4 separate regions of the Homo sapiens genome follow, and all the other regions are linked to region 4. Evidence: fine-mapped expression QTL. A gene starts in region 4. Each other region holds a variant in brackets. All regions are shown on one strand. Distances are between the middles of the regions. Region 1 overlaps MYOF (myoferlin). Region 2 overlaps MYOF (myoferlin). Region 3 overlaps MYOF (myoferlin). Region 4 holds the start of MYOF (myoferlin).

Evidence for each region. PIP is the estimated chance that this variant, and not a neighbour inherited with it, causes the effect.
Region 1: its variant is fine-mapped to the expression of MYOF in whole blood (INTERVAL, PIP above 0.99).
Region 2: its variant is fine-mapped to the expression of MYOF in gastroesophageal junction (GTEx, PIP above 0.99).
Region 3: its variant is fine-mapped to the expression of MYOF in whole blood (TOPMed, PIP above 0.99).

Annotation. Positions count from the first base shown.
Region 1 is chr10:93,396,716-93,404,820 of GRCh38, forward strand. It overlaps MYOF (myoferlin), which reads right to left. Exons shown (of 54, transcript NM_013451.4): 8 at 7,442-7,504; 9 at 7,308-7,358; 10 at 6,145-6,175; 11 at 5,517-5,632; 12 at 4,703-4,829; 13 at 2,677-2,780; 14 at 673-741; 15 at 532-575. Among named protein-coding and RNA genes, the nearest start is that of MYOF, 82 kb to the right of the region's middle. The variant C/T (reference allele first, on the strand shown) is at 4,796.
Region 2 is chr10:93,456,026-93,464,130 of GRCh38, forward strand. MYOF (myoferlin) reads right to left here. Exons shown (of 54, transcript NM_013451.4): 2 at 857-912. Among named protein-coding and RNA genes, the nearest start is that of MYOF, 22 kb to the right of the region's middle. RefSeq lists an enhancer at 3,775-4,397. The variant A/C (reference allele first, on the strand shown) is at 4,917.
Region 3 is chr10:93,409,344-93,417,448 of GRCh38, forward strand. It overlaps MYOF (myoferlin), which reads right to left. Exons shown (of 54, transcript NM_013451.4): 6 at 230-396. Among named protein-coding and RNA genes, the nearest start is that of MYOF, 69 kb to the right of the region's middle. The variant C/A (reference allele first, on the strand shown) is at 3,676.
Region 4 is chr10:93,477,415-93,485,519 of GRCh38, forward strand. MYOF (myoferlin) reads right to left here and starts at 4,920. Exons shown (of 54, transcript NM_013451.4): 1 at 4,693-4,920. The coding sequence starts at 4,780.

The sequences.
Region 1 (8,105 bases), 81 kb before region 4:
TCAGGGAGCTAAGGGTGCCTGCTGAATGCTACATCCAACTAGAACATTCCAAGAATGGTCTTGTTATGGCCAATCAGTGCTAGAAGGCTGGTCTACTAAAAATTCTATCAGAACATTTCAAGGACTTTTCCTTGCCTTCATTGAGGTAGTTTTACCATTTTCTTTTTAAACAATAACAATGAATTGCTCTCAGAATGTTTTGGTGATTCTTCCCAAGAAATGCTTGACTGTATTTCTGAAGTCTATTCTGGACAGCCTAATGATAATTAAATCCCTGATTTCTTATCTTGGGGCATTTTCAGCACGTTCCCCTTCTTTTGTTTATGAGCAGTTGAACCGAAATAATCGAAGCTTTTTTTGCAGTAACACTATTATTAAATTTTGTTTTAAGAAACGCCCAGTTCCAGGAGCAATTTATCCTCTCCTCTGGAAGGAAAGCAAAATACCAGAAAGAGACAATCCAGAGTAATGTTTCACAATATCCAATGTTTATTTTATGTTGAATTAGACACATACGTATTTTCAACTCACCAGTCATATATTGTTAGTTTTATTTTTTCACACACTGAAGGAAACTAAAAAAATGAGACAGAAAAAAGTAGTTATTTCTCAATGATTTAGTAATTATTAAGTAAGTATTCTTACTTTTTCAGAAAGAAAATAAAGTCAAACCTTGATCTGAAGATTGACGACCTGATTCCACTCTGGGTTTGCATTTTTCTCAATTATGTTTGTACAAACCTGTAAAATCACCAAAGCAAAAGTGTAGGTTTTCAAGTTTCTAATTTCTAAAAGTTTACAATCTATGCATACTAGATTATGACTTTAGCAGTTTACTTATATACTTAGGAACCTGGTTAAACTTTATTTTTCTTGATGATTTGTAAAATATGACATGGGTTTAATATTAATCATTGCTGTTTCGAGGCACTAGGAGCTTGCTTTTAACCTTTTTTTAATTAGTTTTCAATTGTCAGGCTTCTAACATTAGATTAATGTAAAAAAGCAAGAGATAAGGTTGATAGAGCATTTGTTACATACCGTTTGGGAAGCATCTACCATTAACACATCCAGACAGATCTTTTGACCCTGCCCGCCAGCCTCCCTGCCCTCTACCCCAAACTGACTCTTGTTCCAGTCTTTCCATCGCTCTTCATTCAGGTGGTCAGGCTCAGAACCAGAATCAGCCACACCCTGACACTTCCGTCTTCAAGCAGATCCTGGAATGTCTTCAAGCTGATCCTGAAATGTTTCTCCCCAGGACACCTGCGGTTGTCTATCTGAACTCCACACCCTCTCTTGCCTCCTGACTTTCATGTCACTTCTGTGTAACATCTTCAGGGGGCCCTCAAAGTACACTTCAAATAAAGCCCCAATCCTTCCCTGGGCTGATGAAGCCCTACTGTCCCAACCCTACTTCTCACTGACCTCCTAGTTTTCCCCGCTTGCTGGCTCTACCGCAGCCACATGGGCAGGCCTTCCCTGCTAACATTTTCTTCCTTGGGGCCCTTCCATCGCCCTTCTCCCTGCCTGGATGCCTCCCTCCCCAATCTCTGCATATCCAGGCCTCTGCTCAACTGTCACTTTCTCCAGGAGTCTCACCTGATAACCTGGATAAACACTCCTCCCCTGCACCAATCACTTCTTGTCCCTGCTTTGTTTTCTTTGTAGCACTGGGCACCATTTAAAATTATTCAGTTTCTTGTTTGCTTGTTTATTGTCTGTCTCTTCTATTCCCATGTGTTCGTTTCTATATCCCAGCACATGGGACAGAATCTGGTACTTAATGACTTTTTGAATGAATCAAACCTCTCAACAATCCTGTGATTGTTATTATCTCCCTTTATAGTTCAGGAAATGGAAACTCAGAGGGTAAACGATTTGCCTGCCTATGAAGTGGGGTAAAGCCTGAATTTAATTCAGGCCTCATTTTGCCCCAGAGCTGAAGGCTTTTCTACCACACCCACTGAATCTTTTAGAAAAAAGCACCAGTCATATGTGTATGTGTATGTGGTTTGCCGAATCTTGCTTTCATAATTATATGGTTCGAACACATAAAAGATGCTAGTTCTTTTTGTCTATAACTGTCCATGATGTGCTATTATTCTACTGTAGAATCTCACCCAACTCTCAACTCTCCAATCTTTGACCATCTCTGTAGGTAAAAGTGGTGGTTATAGCTGTCCCTACACCAAGAGTCTCCCAGATATTTTCAGGGGAGTGGGATGGGGCTTCCCTGACCCATTCTCTGGTTTCAACAGTTTACTGGGGCATGGAAGGTGAGAAACATGACAGGAAGGGGCAACAGGGCACTGGGGGGGGGTCTCTGTCCTACAACATTTACCAGGGATGGGTGTGGCTGGCCAGAGAGCTTGCCTAAGGTTAAGATAACGTTTGGACCTGAAAAGCAATTCCAGAAATTCAGTGGTAGCCTTCCCTATTTTAATCTCTCAAAAGATTGAATTTTCTAATTTGTGTTCTGCATACTTTCCACTCCAAAATAAACCTGTGGAGAAGTCTGGCGTGTTCAGACTCAGATAATCTGTGTTCCCTCAGAGTGCCTGGCTCATCAGGGGGCTATTTTAACAAAGAGTAAGCAGGAATTCACTCCAAGGAAAGCACAGTAGTTTTAGATATTTATTACTAGCAGCATCTGCATTTAGATCATGTACAAACCTTTTTTCCAGCAAAGGAAACTTCTACAAAAGGATCCACGAGATTTTTCTTATCTGCATTGCCTCCAAATATTTCCTTTACTGTCTGTGAGAAGGCATCATCCACTGGAAGGTAATAGTTATACAGCAGAAATTAAATTCAATTCCCAGAAATTTGGCAAAATTTTAAAAGTTCTCTTATACATCAAAATAGTTGCAACAGGCTAGGCGCAGTGGCTCATGCCTGTAATCCCAGGACTTTGAGAGGCCAAGGCTGGTGGATCATGAGGTCAGAAGAGCAAGGCCATCCTGGTCAACATGGTGAAACCCCTTCTCTATTGAAAATACAAAAATTAGCTGGGTGTGGTGGCACGCGCCTGTAATCCCAGCTACTCGGGAGGCTGAGGCAGGAGAACTGCTTGAACCTGGGAGGCGGAGATTGCAGTGAGCCAAGATCACACCACTGCAGTCCAGCCTGGTGACAGAGCAAGACTCCATCTCAAAACAAACAAACAAAATTAGCCAGGTGTGGTGGCACATGCCTGTAATCCCGGCCACTTGGGAGGCTGAGGCATGAGAATCACTTGAATCTTGCAGTTAGCCAAGATCAAGCCAGTATATGCCAGCCTCCAGCCTAGGTGACAGAGTGAGGCTCTATCTCAAAATAAAATAAAATAAAACAAAAACTTGATCTTTTATGGAGGAAAAAAAATACAACAAAGTTCATTCAGTGAGAGTAAAAGATGATTCTCAAACTCAGGCCTGCTTTCAATTGGGAGAAAGGTGCTCTAGGTCAAAATGATATAGTCCTAGTCTGTTTCAGAGAAATTCAAGAAAATTTGACATAATCACAAATAATATATTTAATCAACTACAATCTATAGTTAAGCTAAAAAGTAAATAGAGATCAGGATTTTAATTTACCTTATTTTATGTATTTCTTTCTTCTTCTTCTTCTTCTTTTTTTTTTTTTTAAATAGAGACAGTAGTCTTGCTATGTTGCCCAGGCTGGTCTTGAACTTTTGGCCTCAAGCAGTGCTCCTACCTTGGCCTTCCAAAGTGCTGGGATTATAGGCATGACCCACTGCCTCCAGCCCATTTGACACATTTTTGAGAGAAAGGTGGGTATGGGGAGGCCCTACAATACTATCTTTTAAGACCATAGGATCTTAAAAGAGGAAAAGGATTCCCAAGAAAAGCAGCAAATCCTGAAGAGATCCATGGCCTGTATAGTGAGTGCAGCCTCCTGGGGACTTGGAGAAGGGTCCCATGTCCCAGAGCCCAGCAGGAACCAGACAGGCCCAGCAAGGCAAATAGGAGGCTGGGCCATCAGCAGTGACAGAGGGATAACCACACTAGTTCCTATAAATGGAATCACTAGAAGCGATCCCTTAAATGCAACCAGTCTCTTGCTGAATATATTTCATAATACAATAGTGGCAGACTTCTAGTCATTGGGACATTACTACCCTTTGCTCAGCATGTTTTTTTTTTTTTTTTTTTTTTTGAGATGGAGTCTCACTCTGTTGCCCAGGCTGGAGTGCAGTGGTGTGGCTCACGGCAACCTCCGCCTCCTGGGTTCAAGTGATTCTCATGCCTCAGCCTCCCAGGTAGCTGGGATTATAGGCACCCGCCACCATGCCCAGCTAATTTCTGCTATTTTTTTTTTATAGCTGGATAGCAAACACCTTGATTTGATAATAACAGTTCACATTTTCATTTGGGATAAAAGGGGTTGGAAGTGCTGACTGCTCATATCTCTTTAGCATCCTCTAGAATAAAGAGAAGATATAGAATAGCAAGAGAGAGAGTCAAATGGGCCAAAGGCAGGTACTCAACAAGGAACATGATCAGCAACCAACTAGCTGTGCCATGAGCCTGCTCAGGTAGCTTTCAACTGGGCCAGAATGAATGAAAATAAGCCCATGAAGCCCTTTCAGAAGAAAAACATACGATAGGGACACGAATCACTATTAAAGTTTGATTTTTAACACATTTCATCACACACATAATCAACAATTCTGGGGCAAGATTAAATCAGTACATACTCTGGGGGATGTCCTCAGCTCGGTAGATTTTCAGCAAGAAGGTCACCCACCGGAGGGCAATGCCAGCAGGGAGTAACAAATTACTCTCCACAT[C/T]ATCACTGTCATTATCACGATCTCGTCTCTCAGGCTATTAGGGGCACATGATTTAAATTATACATACAGAAAAGCAGCACTTGGAAAAAGCCAAATTAATGCTTATAAAATGAAACCATTCAGAATCGTTTCCATTAAGATTTCCTGTGTTTGGGGCTTAAGAGTTCAGCCTGCCATCAGCCACCAGTTTTCCTTCAACCTCAAAACTGCTCCACAAAATCAATGCTCATGTTTTTGTATCATTCTGTCATTTTATGAGCACCAAATAGTAAGAGCCTGTGCGTGTGTGTGTGTGTGTGTGTGTGTGTGTGTGTGTGTGTGATCCTGATGTCCCTTCAACTTCTCTCTGGCCACTTATATTCTGCAGTTTGCCACCCAGTTTCCTAGAATAATCACTAACTATTTAGGTAGCAATGCCTAATTCTGCAAGTAGGTCATGCTTTCTAGATAAAAGCAGTCTTTCTAATGAGGCAAGGACGTTGTAAAAACACATTCATCGATTCTCAATTAAATGCTCACTCATAGACATCAGATAAGAGTTTAAGTAAGCTAGAACAATAATTCCATGATGAAGAAAAGAACAGCTTCTGAAGAATAGGGGGAATCTGAGGGTATTGACGGGAAGCTGTGCTCCATTTCACAATTACCCATGCCCACATGCTTAACTCTTGGCCTTCTTTTTTAGTGAGAAGTGTAGAAAGTAGAGAATGTAGGGACTCACAGGAGGCTCATCTCCGGTTCCCAGGACAAACATGCTGACTTTCATATAACCTTTAGAACCTGAACTGGTATCTTCCGGGTCATTGAGAAGAAGCCACTTTCTCATGACAGCATGGCCTAAAATAGAGAAGGAGTAAAAGGAAATGGACATGCTAAAAAGGTACTGATAAGTCTGTGATTCCTCTGCCATAAGATAAGCTGCATTTTCTTGGAAGCCTCTTCACGACACACCAAATTCCCCAGATGAGTGTCCACTTTCACGTCTTCTGTTTTGTACTCTCCCTACACCCCACCCCCACCATTCTGTCCTCGTGTAACTCAAACAAGACTCTCTAAGTTGTACCAACGAGTTTTATAATTTAATTTTGATAAGATCAAAATATCCTCACAAAACATAGAAATCATCTATTTTGAATGTTAAGATAAAAAATTAGACATTTTTTCTAAGCTACTGTTATTTATTCCCACTAAGTATCCTCTCCTCTCCCTCATTAAGAAAATATTTTTTAAAAAATTCCTTTAACTTTAATTCTTTGATCCCCCCCAAATTGTCTTGATTCTTAGAATCATCTTCAGAGTTAGAAGGAATGAATTTAAGACTTCATATTGATGGGGAGAACATTACTTACCAGGTTCATCATAAACAAATCCAACATCAATCTGGGAAAACAATAATCGAAAGTAGTCTAAGTAGATTTTAAAATCAGTCTAGTCACTTTAAAGAAGCCATCATTATATTTAAATATCATGTCTTGATTACACTTAAATTTCCTTGAGACCCAACATTTCCGTCTTATCCTCTCTGTATCCCCAGTGCCTTGTCTGATGTGTGGCACATGGAAGACCCTCAGTAAGTCACTATTGAATGAATGAGCTAGTCTTAGGGCTGGAAGGGACCACAGAAGCAGAGTGACCAATATGACCCAGTTTGCCTGGGTTATCCTCAGTTTTACCACTAAAGTCCCAGGCAAAGTGGGACCATTGGTCATCCTACAGAAATTCACCTGGCCCAATTTCCTGTCCAGTTCTCCTCCTCCTCCTCCTTCTCCTCCAGCTAATGCTACTATTAATATAACCATTGACTGGGCACTTCAATGTGCCAGGTGCTGTACTAGGTGCTTTACACATACTATCTCATTTAATTTTCTCAATGATCCCATTTTACAGATGAAGAAACTAAGGATCAGAGAGATTGAGTTCCTCTGGGACATGTGGCTACTTGGTGGCAGACAGGGTATGAACACAGGTCTGCCTGACCCAGATCATCCTCTAGGACTTCTAGTGACTGGTGCTCCTTTCTTGGAGAGGCAGCCTATTCCATGTAGAATTGCTGGGAAGAAGCCAACCAAGTATTTGTCCTTTCATTCCAGTGAGAGCTACTTATAGAAGCACCCTGAACCTCTTGCCTTGTTTGGCTTTCCTTTCACACTCTGAATTTACCATAATTGGCTTTGCAGATGGAGCTTTGGGGCCCCCAGTAAGTGGAGGTAGATGGTGGACTTCTTGCCATGGTCAACACCCCTTCCCTTTGTGGCAGTGGATTTGCTTCCATCCAGATACAACCCTGGGAAGGGCCCTGATATGGCAGCTTCAGGGCATCTTGCTTTGAGAGCTCTGTTCACTGTTATACTTTGGAAATAGACAAGCCCCAAGCAGCCTTCAGCAAGTGTCATCATGCTGAACCCTTACACATTCCCAAGATGCCACCAAGATGCGTACATAGGAATCAGATTTCTATTATGAAAGTTCTCATCTTTCTGTAAGTTGAATGAAGCAGACTGTTGTCACTCACCTTAAATTCCCCCATCAGACAATCTGCCCGCAGAGAGTGAGAATTATAAACCTGGAAGAAAGAAGAGTAGTGAAGAAATGATTGGCTTTGCCTGGCAGTGAGTGAGCAGTACCTTCCTACTTGCTGACCCTTACCCGGATGCTGATGATCTCATCCATCAATTCAGAAGGGGTCATGTTGACATTGTAGAAAAACAACTGCCAAAACAATAGAGCAGATGTTTAAATGTTAACAGGGGATTCGGGTTAGGGGAATCTGATACTATAATTTTGGGGGCCCTCCTAAAAAATGCAAAACACAAATTCAAAATTAGGTTTGACCATGTGAACACATGGCAAGGCCTGGAGTTTAAGCCCTGCAGTTTAAGCTTCATGGTAAACCCACTTCTTCATGTTGGAAAAAGGAGAAAAGGGTAAGTAACAAATATAGCATTTACTTAACTAAAGAAAATTGTTCACCTGGGGCTAGATATCTAAAAGCTAAATAATGTAAAGATCCAAAGCTAAGCAGGTATCGGGGTACACCCCTGTAATCCCAACACTCAGTAGGCTGAGATGGGAGGAGTGCTTGAGCCCAGGAGTTCAAGACCAGCCAGGACAATATAGTGAGAGGCCATCTCAAAAAAAAAAAAAAAAAAAAAGGGAAAAAGATCCAAGGTGACTTCATGCTGCAATGCTTATCAAAATGAGCGCTTAGAGCTGGCATGACCTGGAGTGTGTTTTAAATTTCTCTAATATCTTTAGCTCTATTAGTGTCTAGTGACTCTAATTTTACTCCAAGAAAGCACCTTTCAAGACA
Region 2 (8,105 bases), 21 kb before region 4:
AGTGGGGGGAGGTAAATAAGTTATATGTCTTCAGTAGAATATTGCACAGTCATTAAAATACTTTTGAATTTTATGCTTTTGAATTATTAAAATAATTTTATGCTTTTGAATTAAAATACTTTTGAATTATTAAAATAATTTTGAATTAATATGGGCATATGCTTAGGATATAATAGCAAGAAAGTGTAGGAGAGGAAATCATTTGCTATATGCTGCTAGTTTGTGTTATCAGATGTCGTATTTCATTAAATATATTCCTCCAATAAACACTTAGTGATACATCACAGATGTTAATAGTAGTTGCCTCTAGAGAGTGGGACCCAAGTTAATTTTTTAAAGATTAATTGAAGTTTTCAAAAGTTTCCACATGAAGCATACTGGACATCACTTTTATCAACATAAAACCAATACATGTCATTACCCAGCTAGACACACAGAGAATCATGTGATACACTCTTGATTTGTCACATGCAGACATGTTTTTAATTATGAGGCCTTCCTTCTGAGACTCTGGAGATGATCTAATCCCACCCTTGCTCTGCACATGTGCCCCAGATATGCAACATAAGTGGACCAAGCTCACACAGCAAGCTCGTGGCGGTGCCTGGTAAGAACTCAACTCTCCTGCCAGTCCAGGCTTCCCTTGCCGCGCCACTGCTGTACAGAAGATGGTCGCTGGTGAGCTACTCTCCTTGAACTGCTCTGCTCTCTTGGTGAACACAAAGGGAAACGGAGTGGGTGGGGGTGAAATGTAGAGATTCTCCTTCCGAAGGGAAGAGGTAACCTCTCACCCAAAGATAGGACAATCAGAAATAGCTTATCTATTAAAACAAAGTTGAAAAAACAATGAAGTCACCTCATTCCAGACAGGGTTCAATTCATTATCAACTTTCTTTGTTTTCTTTTTCTCATCTGCAAAAGAGATAAAGGAAGAGACAGCAATCATTTATAAAAAAATTAAAGAGCGTGGGCCATTCATTTATTCTAAGAACATTACCCAAGGGTCTACTTGCACCCACATCTCCCCATTCATCGCTTAGGATGGGTGTTTACCTGAATCACAGTTTTCCAAATGAAATGGCATTTTTTGGTCTACAAGGTTTTCCCATCTCCAGGTCTACATGGAGTTAAGGGATGTGATGTTCTGCCCTTCTCTCACCAAGGCTACCCAGAGCCTCTGCATCTCTGGCTTGCTGCAGAAAGAAGCCAACAAAGCTAACCTCTGAGATGCTGATATTGCTATTTTATAGATGAGGATATTGAGGCTCAAAGAGTTAAGACGTTTATCTGAGCTCACACCTGGCAGTGATGCCCTGATTTAAACCTGGAATTTCAGCTCTGAAGCTCATGCTGCATCTGAGTGTGCTAAGATGCCAACACAGCTTCAATATTAAGCTGGACTCCCTCCCATAGGCTTCGGTACAAGGTCATTAGTAGATGAAAACTTTCTAAGACCAGCGGATAATTTGGGGCTTCCTTTACTCCGAGGCCACCTTTTCTGAAGACACAAGATCTTTCTTCTCTGTGTCTGAGCCTGGACAGTACACCTACCTGGATGAGCACACGAGCAAATCCAGCAAGTGCTTAAAGTTTCCTTGTAGCAAAGTCCAAAGAGCAGAGGCTTCTTTTGGGTCCCCAAGTCCCCAAATACCTACCCAAATAAAAGCTAATCTTCGAGTACAAAATGCTTTGTCAGCATTATCTCATCTAATTTTTTTTTTTTTTTGAGACAGGGTCTCGCGAGGTCGCCCAGGCTGGAGTATAGTGGCACTATTTCGGCTCACTGCAACCTCTGCCTCCCAGCTCAAGAGATCCTCCCACCTCGGCGCCCCATGTAGTTGGGACCACAGGTGCACACCACCACACCCAGCTAATTTTTCTATGTTTTTTTTTTTTTCACTAGAGATGGGGTTTTGCCATGTTGCCCAGGCTGGTCTCAAACCCCTGAGCTCAAGTGATCCACCTGCCTCAGCCTCCCAAAGTGCTGGGATTACAGGTATGAGCCACTGCGCCCGGCATTCATCTAATCTTAAAAACCTAGGAGAAGCCAGGTGAGGTGGTGCACGCCTGTAATCCCAGCACTTATGGAGGCCAAGGTGGGAGGATTGTTTGAGCCTAGGAGTTCAAGACCAGCGTAGGCAACATAATGAAACCCCATCTCTACAAAAATACAACAATTAGCTCTGTGTGGTGGCACACACCTATAGGTTCCAGCTACTCAGGAGGCTGAGGTGGGAGGATCCCTTGAGCCCAGGAGGTCAAGGCTGCAGTGAGCCAAGATCACACCACTGCACTCCAGCCTGGGAAACAAAGCAAGACCCTGTCCAAAAACAAAAAACAAACCCTAGGAGGTATATATTACTATTTTCATCCCCCTTTCACAGCTAAGGAAACTGAGAAGCTGAGTAACATTCAAAGTCACCCAGTTGGCTGGGTGCGGTGGCTGACACCTGTAATCCCAGCACTTTGGGAGGCCAAGGCGGGCAGATCACTTGAGGTCAGGAGACCAGCCTGGCCAACATGGTGAAACCCCACTTCTACTAAAAATACAAAAATTAGCCAGGCATGGTGATGGGTGCCTATTATCCCAGCTACTCGGGAGGCTGAGGCAGGAGAATCACTTGAACCCAGGAGGCAGAGGTTGCAGTAAGCCGAGATCGTGTCACTGCACTCCAGCCTAAAGGATAGAGCGAGACTCAGTCTCAAAACAAAAAACAAATAAGTCACCCAGTTAATAAATGGTCTTGCTAGGATTTGAGACCCAGGCAGTCTCACATTAGTGGCCACACTTTGAATCACTCCTCAGCCTTTGCTTCTCCTCTGCTGCTGTGGAATGTAGGAGGTAGTGGGTTTTGTTTAGCTAATGTCACATTGCTTTGGCTCCCAGCACACAGCTGCCTGTGGGACTAACCACCTCATTCTTCCAAGACCTCAGCATAGCAAGGCCGTGAGTCATGGACCTCACTCTGCTAAGCATTAACTTTTCCACTTGAGAGGGCAACACACAGCCCAATGGCTTCCCTTCCTAAGCTTCAGCGTGACGCTCCTCGTCGGCTTGTGCCCAGACCTATCCTGGCTGGTTCTGCCTGTGCTCTCTCTATGTGGCCTACAGAGCCCCTCACTGCATCTGACTCTGAGGTCCCCTAGACGCTGTCCAGAAACTTCCCCTCCCACACTTCCATTTTGACCCCACCCTTCCCTCTCCTCATCTAACAGAAACTCCCAATCCTCCTCTCTGGTTACAGTATAAGAAAGTGCTCTTGAGAGAAACAGGAGACATGCAAAGAATTTTTAACTTAAATAGAACTGGACAAAATGGTTTCTATGTGTAATTGTAGCTGCTCCCTCTACAGAATCATCTCTAGGTGCCAGGCTGTGCATTCTACCACAGTGTCTCTAACCATTGAGACAATTCTTCCAGGTAAACATGGTCATTCCCATTTCTAAGCCAAGAAAATGGAGAGTAGTTAACCTGCCTTCAATCACACAGCTAATAAGGAAACAGCCAGATTTTGAACTACATCCCTCTGGCTCCAAAATCTGTGTTTGTGTGTGTTTGCCACCATGCCACAGTGCCTTATTGGAAGCTGTCAGAAATGCTGGATAATGAAGATTCGTAAATGTAACACATGTGATGGGCTTGGCGTCTTGGAAAATGTCCATAAGGAAGTTTATGGTTGCGTTCCAGGGTATCCTGAAACTCTCCAAGATTATTTGCTCTAATACACAAAATATTGCATCTGTGAGTTTTCTTGGAGGAAAGAGCTCATTGTTCTCATCAGATTCTCAAATGTGCTTGAAAAAGGTTAGGAATCCCAGCATTCAACAAGCATGAAATAGTACCACCAATCTCCCTCTACCTTACCACTACCCTGCTCCCATAACCGGGGCTTGGGGGGGTGGAGAACTGAGTCTCAAAGGAGTGGATCTGGACCCTGAGACCATGGCGGTCCTTCAAGAGAGAAGATAGGAGATTCCAAGAAGTCCCAGCAAGAAGGGAAAGCAAGGAGAAGGCAGAAAATAATGCAATAGAAACTGAGCACCCAGGCTTGGGGTAGGATTTGCATCACTGAAAGATGGCACTGAAGCAAAATTCCAGTCTCCAAGTCCCCAAGACTCCAACCAGGGAGCCAAGGCAGGGACAAGGGCTCCAGGGAGGTCACAGAAAAAACCAGCGCTTGTCAACATGAAACAAGTCCCAAGCCTGGTTCCTGACCCAGGAAACAGAGAACACGGAAGACACGCTGCAAGCTACCTTGAGGCCAAGCCTGGGACCATGGATCCTCTCTGCCCTCAGGAGGCACAGGATTGTTCCAGAGTCAGCAGCTGGGGAGTGTGAAAAGATTCATTTGTTCATTCATTCATTCACAAACATTTATTAAGCATCCACTGTGTGCCAGTAACAGGAAACAGAAGAGTGTAAGATAATTCTTAGTCTTAAAAAGTTCCACAGGCTGGCTGGACATGGCGGCTCACGCCTGTAATCCTAGCACTTTGGGAGGCCAAGGCGGGTGGACTGCCTGAGCTCAGGAGTTCGAGACCAGCCTGGACAACATGGGTGAAACCCCGTCTCTACTAAAATACAAAAAATATTAGCCGGGCATGGTGGTGGACGCCTGCAGTCCCAGCCACTCGAGAGGCTGAGGCAGGAGAATTGCTTGAACCCAGGAGGCGGAAGTTGCAGTGAGCCGAGATCAAGCCACTGCACTCCAGCCTGGGCAACAGAGCAAGACCCCATCTCCAAAAAAAAAAAAAAAAAAGAAAGAAAAAGAAAAAAAAAGTGCCACAGGCCAGGTGCGGTGGCTGACACCTGTAATCCCAGCACTGTGGGAGGCTGAGGCAGGCGGATCACCTGAGGTCAGAAGTTTGAGACCAGCCTGGCCAACTTGGTGAAACCCATCTCTACTAAAAATACA[A/C]AATTTAGCCATGCATGGTGGTGGGCACCTGTAATCCCCGATACTCGGGTGGCTGAGGCAGGAGAATCGCTTGAACCTGGGAGGCGGAAGTTGCAGTGAGCCTAGATCGCGCCATTGCACTCCAGCCTGGCAACAAGAGCAAAACTCCATCTAAGAAAAGAAAAGAAAAGAAATAGCACAAAGCTCCACCAGGCTTTTGCCTGTCTCATTCTCATCCTGAAGTTTCTTCCTGCCTGTCAGAGGGGGAATAAACAGAAATAATGACTGGTCAGCTCAGGCCAAGAGACCTCACAGCTCAGCCCACAGAAATGGTTCACTGAGTGAGTTCTTCCGCAAACATTAATCAGCTCCTTCATTCTTCCACCCAACAAATGTTTGTGAAATTGCCAGGCATTGAGCACTGTAGGAGACACAAAAATACCCAAGACATGGTTCCTGCCCTCAGGGGGTCTAGTGGGGAGAGGAAATGTGGCTATACGGGACTGATAGAGAAAGGACTTCAGTTGCTATCAGAGGGGTATCAATGCACAGAAAAATTCAGAGGAAAGAAAGGTGACTTCAGGCTGTGTGCACAGAAGATGCAGAGGCTGAGCTAGATGAGAATTCAAGGGCAAGGAGGGGTTGAAAATGTGGAGCCAGAAGACGAGCTCACTCCAGTAGACACAATAGGGTGGGTGGATCAGGCATGGAGGAGGGAGAACCAGTTATGTCACATCTGGGGACACTCCAGGACCCAACCAGCTGGAACCAAAGAGCATAGAACTGGGTAGGGGGCAAACGGGCTTTGTGGGAAGGTTATGGTCTCACTGTGAAGCCTCAAGTACCAGGCTAAGCTTCATTTGGCTGATATAAGTACTTAAAGGAGGAGGGTATTAGAAACTGGATTTTATAACTTCAAAATTTTATAACTCATGAGAAAAACCAAGTGGCCCAACAATTCTCCCAATGCATGTTCCTGAACACATGATTCAATTGTGTGTTGAAAACAAAGGGGAGTGGCTGAGTCCAGGCAGATGCCAGTTGACCACAGACCAGGTGGAGCTATTCAACCAGAACTTCCTGCAGCTCCTGGCACTCATTGTGTGAGGTTGATGCTAATGGCATTACCTCTAGGGGATGCTCACTGCAGGCTGGGCATTGCTAAGCCCCCCACCTTTTTTTTTTTTTGAGTTAGAGTCTCACTGTGTTGCCCAGGCTGGAGTGCAATGGCACGCTCTTTGCTCACTACAATCTCTCTCCTGCCTCAGCCTCCTGAGTAGCTAGGATTACAGGTGTGTGCCACCACACCCAGCTAATTTTTATATTTTTAGTAAAGACAGGGTTTCCCCATGTTGGCCAGGCTAGTCTCGAACTCCTGACCTCAAGTGATCCGCTCACCTCGGCCTCCCAAAGTGCTGGGATTACAGGCGTGAGACACCGTGCCCGGCCTGCTAAGCCCTTTACATGCATCATTTCATTGAATCCTCCTGGCAAGCCTATGACGTAGGCACTGTTTTATTATCCTCAGTTTGCAGAGAAGCAAAGAGAGCCCAGAATGGTTAGGTAACTTGCTCAAGATCACAGGGCTAGGACGAAGCCCTCTAACCAGGTCTAGTATGACTCCTGAGCCCATGCATTTAACCACTGCACCTCCCATTTCCCTAGCTAATAAGGAAAAACTAAGTGGCTGGCATTGGCTCCTACCCTTCTGGAGAAACCCAGCTCAATCTCTTTCAAGAAGGAGGCTCTGATGTTTATCAAAATGTGTATATGTTACATTTTATTGAAAACCTATTCTCACACATAAACACATCAGGCAAAAAAAAAAAAAGTAGATAAATTATTTTTCTTATCAGCAGCCAGTCACATATTTATATTAGTCAATTATTTTATTCTACCTCTGTAAAAATAAAAAAAAAAGGTTAAACCTGCAGGCACTGAACATCAAATTGAATTACAGGAAACTCCCTCCCCTTTCTCCACATTACCTACCCCCCAACCTGGCTCCTGCGTCTAATTTTATTAAGATGACTGTTTCTTCCTATGGAAAGCAATAAAATATTTTCAGCTCAGAACATAACAACTGACTCAAATGCAGAGCACACTCTGAGTGTGCTCAAGGGCTCAAGTCGTTCTTCAGGACATTTCCTGTTTTCCGATTAGCTACGCCTGCCTCTCACTCAGTTCTGCGGAGGTCACCACTGCAGTAATTAACCCCAATGCCAGCCTCCAAACAAGGTTTCCGGGAGAACTGAACAGCTCTCTTAGCCAAACCACCCGCCCTCTTGCGCGGAACCATTTCCTTTGCTGTTCACCTACCAGCCAGTGTGTCAGAACCTTATTGAAAAGGCCTGGCCCAGTGCGGTGCTTATACCTGTAATCCCAACATTTTGGAAGGCCAAGGCCAGAGGATCGCTTGAGTCCAGGAGTTCAAGACCAGCCTGGGCAACATAGTGAGACTTCGTCTCTACAAATTTTTTTTTTTTTTTTTTTTTTTGAGAGGGAGTCTCACTCTGTCGCCCAGGATCTAGTGCAGTGGTGCAATCTTGGCTCATTGCAACATCCGCCTCCTGTGTTCAAGTGATTCTCCTGCCTCAGCCTGCCGAGTAGCTGAGATTACAGGTGCCCACCACCATGCCCGGCTAATTTTTGTATTTTAGTAGAGATGGGGGTTTCACCATTTTGGTCAGGCTGGTCTCAAACTCCTGACCTCAAATGATCCACCCGTCTCGGCCTCCCAAAGTGCTGCAATTACAGGCGTGAGGCACCACACCCGGCCCATCTCTACAAAATATTTAAAAATTAACCAGGCATACTGGCATGCACCAATAGTCCCAGCTACTCAGGAGGCTGAGGTGGGAGGATTGCTTGAGCTTGGGAGGTCAAGGCTGCAGTGGCCACACCCCTGCACTTCATCCTGGGTGTTAGAGCAAGACCCTGTCTCAAAAAAAAAAAAAAAAAAAAAAGGCCTGAAAGACATCAGGACTCCTGAGACTGGCTTGCTACATCTGTGCCGGTGGTCAGCTGCGCTGGTTCATTTTAATGTCAAGTTGGCTAGGCTATGGTGGTGTCTAATTGTTTGGTCAAACATAAGTCCAGATGTTGCTGTCGAGGTATTTTGTAGATGTGATAAACATTTACACTCAGTTGACTTTAAGTAAAGCAAAATTACCCTCTATAATTTAGATGGGCCTCATCCAAACAGTTGAA
Region 3 (8,105 bases), 68 kb before region 4:
AGAATTATAGTTTTATTTCTCTGGAGACCATCAGCTGGCTAGACTAAACCCACTTGTGCCTGCAGAAGAAAGATGGAGAGCTTTTCTTACTGGGTTTATACACTGACATCTCTCTTTACCGGTTGAGCCATTGTCCATTGGAATAGGTCCACTGAAACATCACTGCAATTGCCAGAAGATGGGCAATATAAAGATTAAACAAAGAAGCAGAACGCCAGGCCGTTGCTACCTGGAAGTCCTGTGGCTTATTTGACAGCATCCGCCGGCTGTTCTTTACTTTGGTGAGCCTCCGAGCAAGCTGAGCTTCCGACACCGTCCCAACTGGCCCCTTGGGCCCAGGGCCCCTGACTGCATTGTCCAACCTGTCTTCATCACCTTCATCTTCTTCCCCATCTCCTAAAATATCAGAAAGAAACCCAGTGAGGGATAGCCCTTATCCTGTAAATGTCCAAAGGCTCAGGTTTCCAGGACACGGTTTTGTCTGCCATTATGTTTTAAGTGTTCCTAAAGTGGCAGGTGAAGGAGATCCTCTTGGTGACACTGACTTGGGACTTCTTGTGACTTGGAAAAATTCTTTAGGAAAATGTGTTCACAGTACATCGGGGCTGTTGCTCAGGTTGCCTTCGAAGAGACCAAGAGAATGGCAGAGATCACAGGGACAATGAGAGGAGATGGCACCGTTGGACCCAGCCAGGGATTGCTGAGTTCTCATTAGTGTTAGGATGGAAAAAGGAAGAAACATCACGGAACACTGCAGTCTTGCAATGACAAGCTTCAACTCCATCCCTCCCACTGCAGATCTTCTCTCTAGAGATCTGCTCGTGATCTATTTGTACTGTTTCCTGCTTGAGCCTCCTAATTCACAACTGCTCTTTCCACCCTAATGGCAGAAGAGAAACTCTCCTCATTTTCTTGCCAAGCACCAAGGTGATCATCTTGCTCTTCCTTCCTCCTCCTGGTTTGTCACTTTAACACACACGTGTCCCCTCCTTTATCCCTCTACCTTCCCTCTGCACTCAGGAAAAGGTTTACCCTGCTCAGCAGAGTGAAAATCTCAACCCTCTGCCATGCATTAGATCCTGCTACCTCCTGAATATTTGCAGATCCTACTACCTCCTGATTATTTTCAGGCTCCCCAAATGTCTCCTCTCTCTTGTGTACCTCTGGGGGTTCCGTCTCTATTGCAGCTTTTCCTCTGCCTTCAAGTAGACACAGATCTTTCTCTCCCTACAAAACCAAAAACCAAAAATCAACTCTGCCTACTACCTCTCCTCTTTCTTTTATTCACGAGCTCTTTGAAACTCGCTGACAAACTTTAGCTTTTCTTTTCTTAATACACAAAGAGTTAGAACTTCTGGTAATCTGTACAATATAATCTAAGAGAGCCTAGAAGACAAGCCACCCTGTCTAGAACCCTGCTTTTGGATTCTGAAACTCCTTCTCTACGATGCAAGATTATGAAAGAGATTTAATTTCCAAGGACAGTCACCTGTCAGTCATTCACATCCTGGTATGAATGAGTTTCATCAGATTACTATGTAGCATAGCTCTTGAAATCTTGGGCTCTGAAGCCACGTGGCCTAGGCTCAATCCACTCCCCACCCTCCACTTTCGAGCTATGTGAGTCTGAGTAAGTTTCTTAATTTCTCTAAGCTTCAGTTTCTTCATTTGTAAAGAGGGGAAAATAATAGTATTTACCACAGGGTTACTGTAAAGGTGTAATTATCTATAGGCGAAGCCTTTAGCACAGTATCTGGCATACAGAAGCACCCAATAAATTAACTGTTTATTTTTTAGTTTTGCTGTGTAATCAGTTTTGGTTGGTGTCTTCACCTGCTTGGGCTGCTATAACAAAATACCACAACCTGGGTGGCTTTTAGAAAACAGAAATTTATTTCTCACAGTTCTGGAGGTGGGGAAGTCCAAGATCAAGGCACCGGCGGATTCAGTGTCTGGTGAGGGCCCACTTCTTGGTTTGCAGTTGGAGCCTTCTCTGCCTCCCATGATGGAAGAAGCAAAGGAGCTCCCTTGAGCCCATTTTGATCACGGCACTAATCCCATGCATGAGGGCTCTGGCCCCGTGACCTAATCACCTCCCTAAAGGCCTCACTGCCTAATATCATCACGTTCAGGGTTAGGATTTCAATGTGTGAATTGTGGAGGGACACAACCATTCAGACCACTGCAATTGGAAGGGGCTTCTTCTGGAGCACAGGACACTTCCTGGAACCAGCTATGGGGGGTGTGGGGATGGGGCACTGGAGCAGTCCATGGGCAGCACAGCAGGCAGGGGTCCCAAAGTGAGGAAGAGGCAGCCACAAGGGAAAAGGGGGCCTCCACATGCACTGCTTTGCAATTTAGCCCAGGGTGGGCCCTGCTCCTCATCATCCATTCATTCATGCTTCGCCCATCCTAGCCTGGCTTCTGTTCTTCAAAAGTCAATCACCTCTCTTTGCCAAGCTCCGTGCCCTTTTCTGTATCTCCATATTGGATCTTCCACAGCCTTGGACACCAGTGCTCATATACATATTTTTAGATCATTGCAGCTCTCCTCCCCCGATCTGCTTTTTCAGGTTCTTCTGTGGGCCCCTGTTTTTGTCTCCTACTCACTGAGTGTGACTCCCTACTCTGTCCTCTGATCCTTTGACTCAACACTCTGTAGATCCTCACTTCACACTTCCTTCAAGTAGCCATGGACCCACAGAATGTTGTCCTAGAAGGGACCTTAGAGATCCTTGATCCAACCTACCCTTCACCCCATTTTACAGACAGAAAAACTGAGGTCCAGAAAGCTAAGGCAACTTGCCTGTGGTTAAGTTATTAGAAGCTGAGCTAAAACCAGGACCAAGTTTTCACACTGCCTCTCTGGTATAAAACTGGGTTTAAAACCAGGCTGTAGGTGAAGGACATGTTATGCTCCTAGTACCTCAACATCTTTTTCAGGCTACTGGGAAAACCTCATGGAAGTCAAAGATAAGGAATCTTTGTCCTCTGCAAGATGATCTGGACCTCCTCTTGCCTATTCTTGAAGAGACTTCAAAAGAAGGGCTTACCTGCTGTCTCTCTTAGGGCACCTGGATCCAAGCTCTTGGAATCTTCTTCATCCTACTCTCTACCAGGTAAGTTCCTCTCCTTCTTAAGTTTCAGATGAAACTTACTGTCTTCCAACATGCCCTCCCCACCTCTTCCAGATGGAGTTAGTCCCGCTCTCTCCTACCCGCCACACATTGTTCTTTCTAGTCCTCACCACATAGTCTTGCACCTGCTTGTCAACCCATAGGCTTCCCCTACTCCCAGGCATTTCAGAAGCAAGGAGCTTGCCTTTGCTTCTTTGTTTCTGCCCCATGCCTTACAGAACTCATTACACAAAGTATATAGAAAGTGCTTGATAAATGTGGAATGAGTAAACAAATGGGAAGGGGAACAGGATCCCAGGCACAAATGTGCCTTCACATTTGGAAAAACTACTGAACAACTCTCAGGAAAGAACACCCAGATGGCTGAAGGGGTGCTCCTCCCAACCTTGGCACCAGCCTCGGGGAAGCACTGGGGGCCAGGCGCTTCCCCTCGGTAAACCTGTCCTGGACCGAGCAATGGCTGGGGCTGACAGCTGTTGGGTTCCTCCAAGCAGCGAAGACGAACTTCCTTCCATCATCCTGGGCCTAAGTGGTACTT[C/A]CTCCTTGCCATAATTATAGCATTTTAGGCTGGTGATTTGTACTTCCTCCTTGCCATAATTACAGCATTTTAGGCTGGTGATTGTTTATGGCAGTAAGCAGGAGAAAAAGTCGGGGTCAATCATACCCCTTTGCAATGCTGGACTCTGGACAAGTACTTATTACATTCTCAGTGGATGCTCTAGAATCAGCCTGCAGATAACAAAGAACGTCTTCTGCTATTCAGACTTTAGGCTAAAGGGATGGGTCAGAGGAAACCAGCCTAAGCCATGGTGACAGCCAGCCTCTGTGCCTTGCAGCAGAAGAATATTCAAGCAGGAAACCTCCCCTTTATGTGGCAGGAAGCTGCAGAGGATTAAACAATGGTACGGGCTCCACAAAGAATGCTATGGGTTCCACAAAGAATGAGGGGGCCCCTATGGCACTGTTAAACACACCCTGATGTGCAAGCTGTGTCATGAGTGAAATGCTAGCAGTTGTGCTGGCAGGCCCTGTTCGTGAGACCCAGGCCTGAATGTGATCCACAGCCAAGTGGATCTACAAAGAGCAACTCTTTCACAACCACAGAGGGCCACACCAAGTCAGGAATCACCCACTGAACAGGAAGCTGCTGGTTGTATTAGCTTCTGAAGGCTGTCGCAGGAAGTCCCACAAACTGGGTGACTTAAAACAATAGAAATGTATTCTCTGGCTAGGCGCAGGGGCTCACACCTCTAATCCCAGTACTTTGGGAGGCCGAAGCAGGAGGATCGCTTGAGCCCAAGAGTTTGAGACCAGCCTGGGCAACATAGGGAGACCCCCCATCTCTACAAAAAAAATTTAAAAACTAGCCGGGTGTGGTGGTGCACACCTGTAGTCTGAGCTATTCGGGAGGCTAAGATGGGAGGACCATCTGAGCCCAGGAGGTCGAGGCTGCAGTGAGCCATGATCATGCCCTTGCACTCTGTCCTGGGTGACAGAGCAAGGAAAGAAAAAGAAAGGTAAGAAAAAGAAAAGAAAAGAAAGAAATGTATTCCCCGACAGTTCCAAACCTTACAAGTATAAAATCAAGATGTTGGCAGAGACGTTCTCTCTCTGAAGCCTCGAGGGAAAAATCCTTCCTGTCTCTTCCTAGCCAGTGGCTCCCGGCAATCCTGAGCATGCCCTGCCTGTGGCTGCATAACTCCAGTCTCTGCCTCTGTGTGGTCACACAGCCTTTCTCCTTCTGTGTCCTCCCGTCTTCTCATAAGAACAAGTGGGCCAGGTTTGGCGGCTCACACCTGTAAACCCAGCACTTTGGGAGGCTGAGGCGGGTGGATCACCTGAGGCCAGGAGTTCAAGACCAGCCTGGTCAACATGGCAAAGCCCCGTTTCTACTAAAAATATTAAAAAATTAGCCAGGTGTGGTGGCGTGCACCTGTGGTCCCAGCTACTTGGGAGGCTGAGGCAGGAGAATCGCTTGAACCTGGAAGGCAGAGGTTGCAGTGAGCTGAGATCATGCCCCTGCACTCCAGCCTGGGCATCAGAGAGAGCCTCTGTCTCAAAAAACAAAACAAACAAACAAGAAACTACAGTCACTGAATTTAGTGTGACTTTATCTTAACTAATTACATCTGCAAAGACCCTGTTTCCAAATAAGGTCATATTCTGAGGTTCCATATAGACATGCATTTTAGAGGGCCACTATTCAGTCCACTAGAGAGGCCATCTTTTTTGTTGTTTTTTGTGGTTTTGTGTTTTTGTTTGTTTGTTTGTTTGTTTTTTTGAGGTGGAGTCTCACTGTGTCATCCAGGCTGGAGTGTAGTGGTACAATTTCAGCTCACTGCAGCCTCTGCTTCCCAGGTTCAAGTGATTCTCCTACCTCAGCCTCCTGAGTAGCTGGGATTACAGGCACCTGCCACCACGCCCTGCTAATTTTTGTATTTTTAGTAGAGACGGGGTTTCGCCATGTTGGCCAGGCTGGCCTCGAACTCCTGACCTCAAGTGATCCACCCTCCTCGGCCTCCCAAAGTGCTGGGATTATAAGCGTGAGCCACCGCGCCTGGCTGAGAGGCCATCTTTTGTATCTTTCCAATTTGCTTCCTCTCTTACTCCAGCCCACAAGCAGCCCCAATCTAATGAGCACACTGCCTTCCCTGCACCCCACTTCCTCCATGTCTTTGCTTTACCCCTACCCCAGGTTAGATCCTGCCACCTAACACTGCAACCACCCCACTGCATGCCCCTCGATCCCTTTCCCCCTCTCACTTCACTGTGCTTACCTGGTTTATTCAACCCTCCACTGACTTCACCTCTGCACCCAGCCAGCTGAACTTGGCTGGGAAGCACACACATCTCACTGGACTGATCTCACTTTAATTTCCTGATCACAAACTGTAAGTGTCCTCACAGGGCTGCCTGGCCATCTTACCACATTTCCAAGATATCTATCCCAAAACTTTCCTGAATCCTGGTCTGAGATGGCCACTAATTAACCAGCACAGTCAAATCACTTTACCTTTCTGAACGGCCACCTGTTTTGCATCTTGAAAGCTTCCAACACCCTTTCTATCTTTCTCATTGTCCACTAATGACCTGGCTTCTTATTTCATTGAGAAAATTGGCAATTAGAAGATAATTTCCACATCTTTCCAACTCCAAATCAATCATCTACCTGTATCTGTTGCCTTCTCTCCTGCTACAATTAGTCACTGAACTATCTGTGCTCCCTGACTTGAAGCCAACTCTTCCGCATTTGCACAGATCCTATCTCCTGTTGCTACTTAAGGAGTTTTGCCTCTTTATACGTTCATCGGTTTCCCCCTTTCTACTGGATCATTCCCATCAAAATATAAACACGCTGAAATATCACCCAGAATATTAAAAAACAAAACTTTCATTGACTCCACGGTGCCCCCTACAGTTACTGCTCCATTTTTCCTGCCCCTCTTGGGAGCAAACTCCTCAGAAGAATCATTTTTACTCACATTCTTCACTCTGTCTCTGATTCTCATGCTTCTTCCAGCCAGCCCTCTGCCCTCCTAGTCCACCAAAACTGCTCTTGTCTAGGCCACTAAAGACTTTCATGTTGCAAAATCCAACGGTCCAGCCTCAGGTCTCTTCTTACTCAAACTTTCTGCAGCATTTGTTCATTTAATCCTTGAAACACTTTCTGCTCTTTGATTCAGCCTATTTGAACCAAAGCGCAGCTGCTCATCCTGGCATTCGCAAACAGAAGTAATCACCAAAGAAACTTCTCTCGGCCGGGCGTCGTGGCTCATGCCTGTAATCCCCACTTTGGGAGGCCAAGGCGGGTGGATCACCTGAGGTCAGGAGTTCAAGACCAGCCTGGCCAACAGGGCAAAACCCCTTCTCTAAAAATAAAATTTAAAAAAAAAATTAGCCAGGTGTGGTGGCAGGCGCCTGTAATCCCAGCTACTCGGGAGGCTGAGGCAGGAGAATCACTTGAGCCCAGAGGCAGAGGTTGCAGTGAGCCGAGATCGCGCCACTGCACTCCAGCCTCGGCAACAGAGCGAGACTCCATCTGAAGAAAAAAGAAAAAGAAAAAGAAACTTCTCTCATCCCATCTTCTTATAATATATGAACCCTGGCTTTGATCAGGCTTTTTTTTTTTTTTTTTGAGACAGAGTCTCACTTTGTCACCCAGGCTGGAGTGCAGTGGCATGACCTTGGCTCACTGCATCCTTCACCTCCTGGGTTCAAGGGATTCTCCAGCCTCAATCTCCCAAGTAGCTGGGACTATAGGCGCACACCACCACGCCTGGCTAATTTTTGTATTTTTAATAGAGACAGAGTTTTGCCATGTTGGCCAGGCTGGTCTTGAACTCCTGACCTCAAGTGATCCACCCACCTCAGTCTCTCAAAGTGCTGGGATTATAGGCGTGAGCCACTGCACCCGGCCATGACCAGGCCATTTTAATAGAATCATAGAACTTCGGAGCTGGAAGAGACCCTACATATTATTAAATCCAACCTCCTGATGTTGTAAGAAAGGAACTTGAGGCTCAGAGAGGTTAAGTGACATGCCTACTGTCACACAGCTTGATAGTGGAGCCAATGCTCAAATCCAGATCTGTTGATTCACAGTGGTTCAAGATTCCTCACTGTCCATCTCCGGCTATGACAAGCTCTTCACAACTCCCTTGTAGGAATGCCATCCTGCCTCTCCAATAATTATAATGTCACTTGGTCAAATCCTACAAAGCTTCTCACTGCATCCAACACTGACCTGTCTCCTTTCTGAATATCAGTAACTGCATGTGATCCACTCTTCTTTACTTGTGATGTTTCCGCTAACATTTGGAAATGGTTCTCCATCATAGCTCCAGCAATGTAATCATTCCTGAGATGTATTGTGATCCTCTTTCCAGACGCTCAGCAGCAATATTCCTGCCAACTGCCCTTGTGTGCAGTCACTTGTGATAATGACACTTGCCTACATGGCATCTGTCC
Region 4 (8,105 bases):
CCGGGAGGTGGAAGTTGCAGTGAACCGAGATTATGCCACTGCACTCCAGCCTGGGCAACAAGAGCGAAACTCTGTGTAAAAAAAGAAAAAAGAAAAACACACACAAACACACACAAAGATAGAAGCTGTGCTTTTGAAATGTGCATATTCATGGCCGGGCGCAGTGGCTCACGCCTGTAATCCCAGCACTTTGGGAGGCCAAGGCAGGCGGATCATGAGGCCAGGAGTTCAAGACCAGCCTGACCAACATGGTGAAACCCTGTCTCTACTAAAAATACAAAAATTAGCCGGGCGTGATGGCGGGCGCCTGTAATCCCAGCTACTTAGGAGGCTGAGGCAGGAGAATCGCTTGAACCCAGGAGGTGGAGGTTGCAGTGAGCCGAGATCATACCATTGCACTCCAGCCTGGGTGACAGAGCGAGACTCCATCTAAAAAATAAATAAATAAATAAAAATGAAATATGCATATTCACAAAGACACGCACCACAGGGACACCCACTGCAGTACTGTTGCTAACAGGCAGTAGTTGGGACAACTTATATGTCTAGAGCAAAAGATCAAGAAGGATTCAAATCAAATTGTTCAGAGTGGTGACCCTGAAGGACTAACAGTGGGAGAGAGAAAGAATAGAAGAGGTGTGGGGAGAATTTTCACTTTTTAGTTGCATAATCCCTTCTGGGTTGTTTATCTTATGTCTACATGCATTTTTAATTTTAGAAATTAAAAATATTATATTATTTAAAATTAAAAAGTTTTTTAACAACCTGTTCTGTTTGGAGGACTGTTTGGAAGAATCATCAAGTCTCAGAGTTGAAATTGGTCTCAGAGGTCTGTGTAGTCTAATCTCAGCTAGATTCAGCTTCACAGCCTGGCTGTCCGCATGGAACTTAGGGCAGAATGGCCACCCCTGGCTCACAGGCACTCACTCCAGCCTCAATTCGGATCTGGCTCATGGAACCTGGTGTACCCGAAGGATATGAAAAATTACATAAGCGTTGTGGCTTTCATAATCTACACCTGCGCTGCTGAACATCACCAACAACCATGCACCAGGACTACAGCAACCCCCAGATCCTCCTAGTTCCTACCAGGCCCTGAGTAATTTGACAGCCTCAGAAGGGTCACTCACGGTTGAACACAACTGGGCGCTCATACCTGTAATCCCAATACTTTGGGAGGCCAAGCCAGGAGGATTGCTTGAGCCCAAGAGTTCAAGGCCAGCTTGAGAAACAGAGTGAGGCCCTGTCTCTACAAAAAAAATTAAAAATTAGCTGGGCATGGTGGTGTGTGCCTATAGTTCAGCTACTCAGGAGGCTGAGGTGGGAGGATCGCTTGAGCCCAGGAGTTCGAGACCATGATCACACCACTGACTGCACTCTTCCCTCCTGGATGGCAGGGTGAAACAGTCTCAAAAAAAAAAAAAAAAAAGAAAGAAAGAAAGAAAGGGTTTGAACACGAAAAACTGAGGTCAACTGTAAACCAGTTGGTTGTCAGTACAGCACAATCCCAAGTACAGTGTAGCTATAGCCTAATAGGGCCTCACAGTGTCTATGCGAGCTTCACCATTAACAATCACTTCCCCTGGCCATTCTTCACCGTCTTATAGTTTGAGAAGAGCTGCTTACTGCCCTGACTTTGTTTATTTACCCAAGAGGCAAAATGTTTACATATTTCTGTTAACACAGGGACTTTCTTTGATGCCGCCTTGATCTTCTGGTATGGCTTTTTCCTTTTTTTTTTTTTGAGATGGAGTCTCGTTCTATCTCCCAGGCTGGAGTGCAGTGGTGCGATCTCTGCTCACTGGAACCTCCGCCTCCCAGGCTCAAGTGATTCTCCTGCCTCAGCCTCCTGAGTAGCTGGGACTACAGGCATGGTAGGGCTTTTTCCAGTTTACCATACCCTGCCCCACTCCACACTATGAAGTGTGTCTGCCTTTGTTCCATGTTCCCTCTGATGGACAGTATTTTGCTATAAGTATCCTCAGTTCAGTCAGAACTTAATGTTACTTAATTTTACGCAGTGCTCAAAATTGGGAACACACCTGTAAAGGGTTTGCCATCACCAGGATTTTAAACCACCGACATAGACTGAAAGCAAGAAGAGTGCTGTGTTTGTTGCTATATCCCCTCCAGCACCTAAGGCAATGCATTTCACATCTTGCTGAGAGCAGCTAACTCAATACCTGGAACTAGAAAATTAGAATCTAAAAGACGGAAGGCATCTAAAGACCAGTTCCCATCATGCCACAGCTGAGAAATTGGAGACCCAGGTGGTTAAATCAGATATTGAGTTAATGTCAGCTGGAATGCAGATGTTCCTACTCTGAGTTGAGTGCCCTTTCCTCTGTCAGGTTGCTTGTTAGCTAAATGAATGAATGACTTTACCACTCGATTTGTATGAAAAAAGGAGGCCAGAAAAGAGACTAAAGTTAAATGTGTAATTGTTTGTATAGACTATATTTGCCAACTTAACTGAAGTTTTCCACTTTCAATTGATTGTTTGCATTCATTGACTTAGATATATTTTTCATCATTTAAAATGTTTCATCAATGCATACAAACTCCAGACAAATAACAAGTCAGATTTCAATATAGTATTAACTCCAATTCCTCTATAATCTATAATACTTAAATAATTACATGATCGGACTGATCCAAATATATTTTAATGTCTTTATATGTCAATGATGAAGGATGTAAAATCTTCATATTATGTCTCTATTATGTAACTGCTTCAAGAAAACAAAAAATTAATAAAACCTAACACATGTAAATAAACTCTGACATAACGTGAGTCCATGATATTCACTAGCCAGATTTTCAAACCTCATTGTCCTTTAAGAGCCCAATTTTAAGCTGGGCGTGGTAGTTTACGCCTGTAATCCCAACACTTTGGGAAGCTGAGATGGGAAGAAAGTTTGAGCAAGGGAATTATAACCAGCCTGGGCAACATAGCAAGACCCAGTCTTATTCAAAAAAATTTTTTTAAATTTTTTTTAAATCCAATTTTTGCCCTTTAGATTTTTTTTTTAACCAACCAACAATTTGCCAGCTTTTTTTTTTTTTTTTTTTTTTTTTTGAGACGGAGTCTCACTCTGTTGCCCAGGTTGGAGTGCAGTAGCATGATCTCGGCTCACTGCAACCTCCTCCTCCTGGGTTGAAGCAATCCTCCTGCCTCAGCCTCCCGAGTAGCTGGGATTATAGGCATGTGCCACCATGCCCGGCTAATTTTTGTATTTTTAGTAGAGATGGGGTTTTGCCATGTTGGCCTGGCTGGTCTCGAACTCCTGCCCTCATGTGATCCACCCACCTCAGCCTCCCAAAGTTCTGGGATTACAGGCAGAAGTCACCACACCCAGCCAGCCAGCTTTGAGTTTCATTTCTTTCATTTTCTTGCTCATCCTCAGAGAGAGAGGTTTAAGAAGAGAAATAAAGGGGAAAAACGGGAAACAGAAAGGCGAAAGGTATAGATGCCTCAGGAACTGACAGGGAGTAGCAGTCAGGCTCCTGGAAGAAACGAGAAATGTAGCAAGGCATGGTCAGGAAACACATGTCTATCCATGCTCCCACTCTCTCTGCCTTTCCCTCTCTTTCCCATCCCTCTTGCCAAGAAGTGAGTTGGCAGTCTTACCAATGACAAACAAAATAGATAAAGCCTCCACACTGAGATTTAGAAACCCCACTTTAGCCAAAACTAAGTCACTTACATCAAATTGTACCATGACACCAAGCATTCCTGTCCCCTCCCCTGCAATGGCAATCAAGTGTCATAGAAAAATAGCCTTTTAAAATTACCATGAGCCTTTTATTTTTATTTATTTTTACACCCAGGCTGGAGTGCAGTGGCGTGATCACGGCTCACTGTAGCCTCAAACTCCTGGGCTCAAGCAATCCTCCTGCCTTGGCCTCCCAAAGTTGGCTCAGGGTTGAGGAGCCACTGTGCTCAGCCAACCATGAGGTTTTTAGAGATGATCTTGTCTAAACCCTTCTCGCCTGTTTTGCAGAAAAGAAAATTGAGATCCCAGAGAAATGAAGTAACTTGCCCAAGGTCATTCAGCAGGCAAGATAGAACTAGATCCCCAAATTGCAAACTAGCTGTCCAGAGTTCTTTCCTCAATGAGCAATTTAAAAGCTACAGAATGTACAAAAAAAGCTCCCCAACAGTTTAGATATAAAAACAATTACAAAGGCACAAAAGGGCAGGAAAACTCAATAAAACTATGAACTTCACCCATCCCACCTCCCAGAAACCCAGTGACAATCAAAGCAGCGTCAGGCTGGTTCAAGGAGTAATGGTGTCTCCAACAATTTAATTGCTCTTCTTCCTCCTTTACCCATTTCTCACAGGCAGAGAAAAAATGCATCTAAGACTACTGAAACTTACTTTGAACCAATACAGATGTTTGTTGATACCTGAAATTTAGTGATTCGCAAATACGTTTTCTGCCAAGAGCTTACAGAAATCACACTCTTAGAGCTAAAACATCAGGTCATTCCATGAGTCTCAAGCCCTGGAGAAAATTAAATGCCTTCCCCAGAAACGGGTCCTCTCCCCTGTCCTGCGCAGGTAACAAACGCTGCTGGAGAGACTTGGCTTCATCAGCTGTCTAAATGCAGACTTTTCAAGAAGGTGACTCAAGAAACTAACATTCCAAAACAGGACTTCAGAAAAAGAAGAAAACTTTTTCTTACCCTTAAAAATGACAGAAACAATAGGATCCGGCTTGCCAAATTTCGTTTTAGGGATATTGCTGGCAGATTCCACAATCACTCGCAGCATGGTTCTTAGCTGGTAGAAAGCAAGTTTCAGCAAACGAAGTGGAGACTAGGGCGCTGGAGCTCCGGGTCGCACCGCCCTGGGAGAGAAGTTCTCTCCCAGTGAAGGGAGGATTTCTCCCAGGGCAAGGAAGGGGAAAAGGCAAAATGGGTGGACCTCTGGCGGATTTTACTGAAGGCAACGTGTAAACTGATACCGAACTCCCCGCGTCTACGCAGTGCCGCAGGCACAGACTTATGAATTCGGGAAATGTGGAAGTGAAAAGGACAAACCCTAAACTAAAAATAATTCCGTGCGACAAATGAAACCAACATGAATTTGGAGCTAAGAAATACGGGTAGGTCAGGAAACCACTAAAATGTTGCTGCCTTTTAGCAATGGTTCGTGAAACTGAATTAATTGATTTTTCCGTCACTGCTTTCATTCTTTTCTGAGTTTCAAGGAGTTTTAAAACTTTAGTCATTATTTGCTTTTGACTTTTCGCTGTTACTTCTCACGCCATTGAACACACCCACTCAGTAACCCTATGTTCAGCTTTTTTAAAGCAGCTAAAGGGTGCCTCTTACTGGACGGCAAACGAATGACAGCGTTTATTTCAAGTAAACGCGATCCAGGCATGGGATATATAAATAATTACATATATGTATAAATAATTATATATATATATATATATATATATATATATATATATATATATATATATATATATATATAAAGGACTGAACATAGAATTTCTTCAAAACCCCTTCAGAGGTGAGAGCTGGGCGCCTAAGTTTTCCCGGCTCTTCAAATGCTGCCAATTGCCTTCAGTGAAAATGGAGAAGTGACTCCCCACTGTTTCTGGACCTACAGCTGCCCATGGTGTCTTTCTGTCCCAGAGGGTGCATGAAGACAGTGCAGCTTGGCTGAGATCACAAGAGGCGGCCTGGGGTTAGTCAGCCAGATCTGAGTGTGAGACTCTGCCTCACCACCCTGAGCTACGTCATCTTAGCAAGTTTCTTTTCTTTTCTTTTCTTTTCTTTTTTTTTTTTGACGGAGTCTCGCTCTGTCACCAGGCTGGAGTGCAGTGTAGCGATCTTGGCTCACTGCAACCTCTGCCTCCCGGGTTCAAGCGATTCTCCTGCCTCAGTCTCCCGAGTAGCTGGGACTACAGGCGTGCGCCACCACACGCAGCTAATTTTTTTTTTTTTTGTATTTTTAGTAGAGACGGGGTTTCACCATGCTGGCAAGGATGGTCTCGATCTCTTGACCTTGTGATCCGCCCGCCTCGGCCTCCGTGGCTTGAGCTTTACTGGCTTGAGCTTTACTGGCTTGAGCCACCGTGCTGGCGAGCAAGTTTCTTAACCCCTCTCTTCCTCAGTTTCCTCATCTATGAACTGGGGATAAAGGCTGTTATAAGATAAAGGTCATAGCATAGGAGCTGGCACAAAGCACACAGTAATTTGCACATGTAAGAAGTTCATGCTTATTTGTGGTCTCACAGCGTTTCTGTTAGTGCAGGCTGACTTTAAATCAGGATCTCGTTATATTTCAGAAGAAAAGGCTAAAACTTGGGATGAAGAAACATTGGGCTTCTTTTTGCTTTAGAACACACATCAAGCAGACCCACCTGTAAATAAACATTTCAAGTACATTGAATAAGCATGACTTAACCTACAAGAATTCTTCTGTCTCCACGAGTTTCTCCAAGGCTTAAAGCAAAGAACCAATTACCCAGTGCTGTGTTCATTATTGTATTTAGTGGACATGTTGGCAGTTTTAGTGGAATATAGAGATTATTACTTTTATTTTATCTGGCTGCTTTCTATTTGCCATTTTTACTGTGAAATATATTTACAGAAAAATGCATACTACATAAACGTGACAGTTTAACAAGCATCCAGGTCAAGACAGAACATTGCCAGTCCTCCAGAAGCCCCTGGAATACCCCATATATCATATCCACCTCCTTCTCCCAGAGGTAACCACTCTCCTGATTTTTTTTTCTTTTTTTAGATGGAGTTTCACTCTTGTTGCCCAGGCTGGATTGAAGTGGGGTGATCGGCTCACTGCCACCTCCACCTCCCGGGTTCAAGCAATTCTCCTGCCTCAGCCTCCCAGGTAGCTGGGATTACAGGCGTGCACTACCACACCCGGCTAATTTTGTATTTTTAGTAGAGACAGGGTTTCACCGTGTTGGCCAGGCTGGTCTCAAACTCCTGACCTCAGGTGATCCATCCACCTCGGCCTCCCAAAGTGCTGGGATTACAGGCATGAGCCACCATGCCTGGCCCACTCTCCTGATTTTTATGGTAATGATTTCCTTGCTTTTCTTTGTAGTTTTTACCGAAAACAACAACAACAAAACAGTTTAGGTTTGCTTGCTCATGACCTTTGTTTGGTGATATAAATTCTTTTGTATGTTATGAACTTTACATACAACACATATATTCATATATATAGGTACACACATACATGTGTTCATACTTTGTGAATTCTTTGCTGTATTATGACTTTATAGAAATGGACTCATACAGAATGGATTCTTTCGTGTTTGACTTCTTTTTTCTCAGTATTATATTGTGAAATTCATTCATGTAGCTCTACTTCCTTCACTCTTGTTGCTATATGGCATTTCATTGTATGAGTTTCTGACATTTTATTTATTTATTTATTTTGAGACAGAGTCTTGCTCTGTAGCCCAGGCTGGAGTGCAGTGGTGCGATCTCGTTTCACTGCAACCTCTGCCTCCCGGGTTCAAGCAATTCTCCTGCCTCAGCCTCCTGAGTAGCTGGGATTACAGGTGCACACCACCACGCCCGGCTAATTTTTGTATCTTTAGTAGAGATGGGGTGTCACCATGTTGGCCAGGATGTTCTCGAACTCTTTACCTCGTGATCCGCCTGCCTCAGCCTCCCAAAGTGCTGGGATTACAGGCATGAGCCACTGCGCCTGGCCTCCAGATTTGATTAATTCATTCTACTACTGCCAGACATTTGGACAGTTCAGGGAATGGGGCTATTACAAACAGTGCTGTTCTGAACAGTCCAAGACTGTTCTGGCACAAATGTGCATGAGTCTATTTAGAGTCTAATCTATGGGTGGAATTGCTTGCTGGGCCAGAGAATGTATGCATTTCTTCACCTTTACAAGGTAATTCCAAATTATATTCCACAATGGTACTCTTGCCAGCAGTGTATGAGACTTCCTGTTGTTCTAAATTTTTGTCATACTTAACCAATGTTAGATTTTTTACATTTGCCCTTCTGGTGAGCATATAATAGCATCTCACTGGAGTTTTAATTTGCCTTTTACCTATTCATGTGGGAGAAAAAGACAAATGACTTCC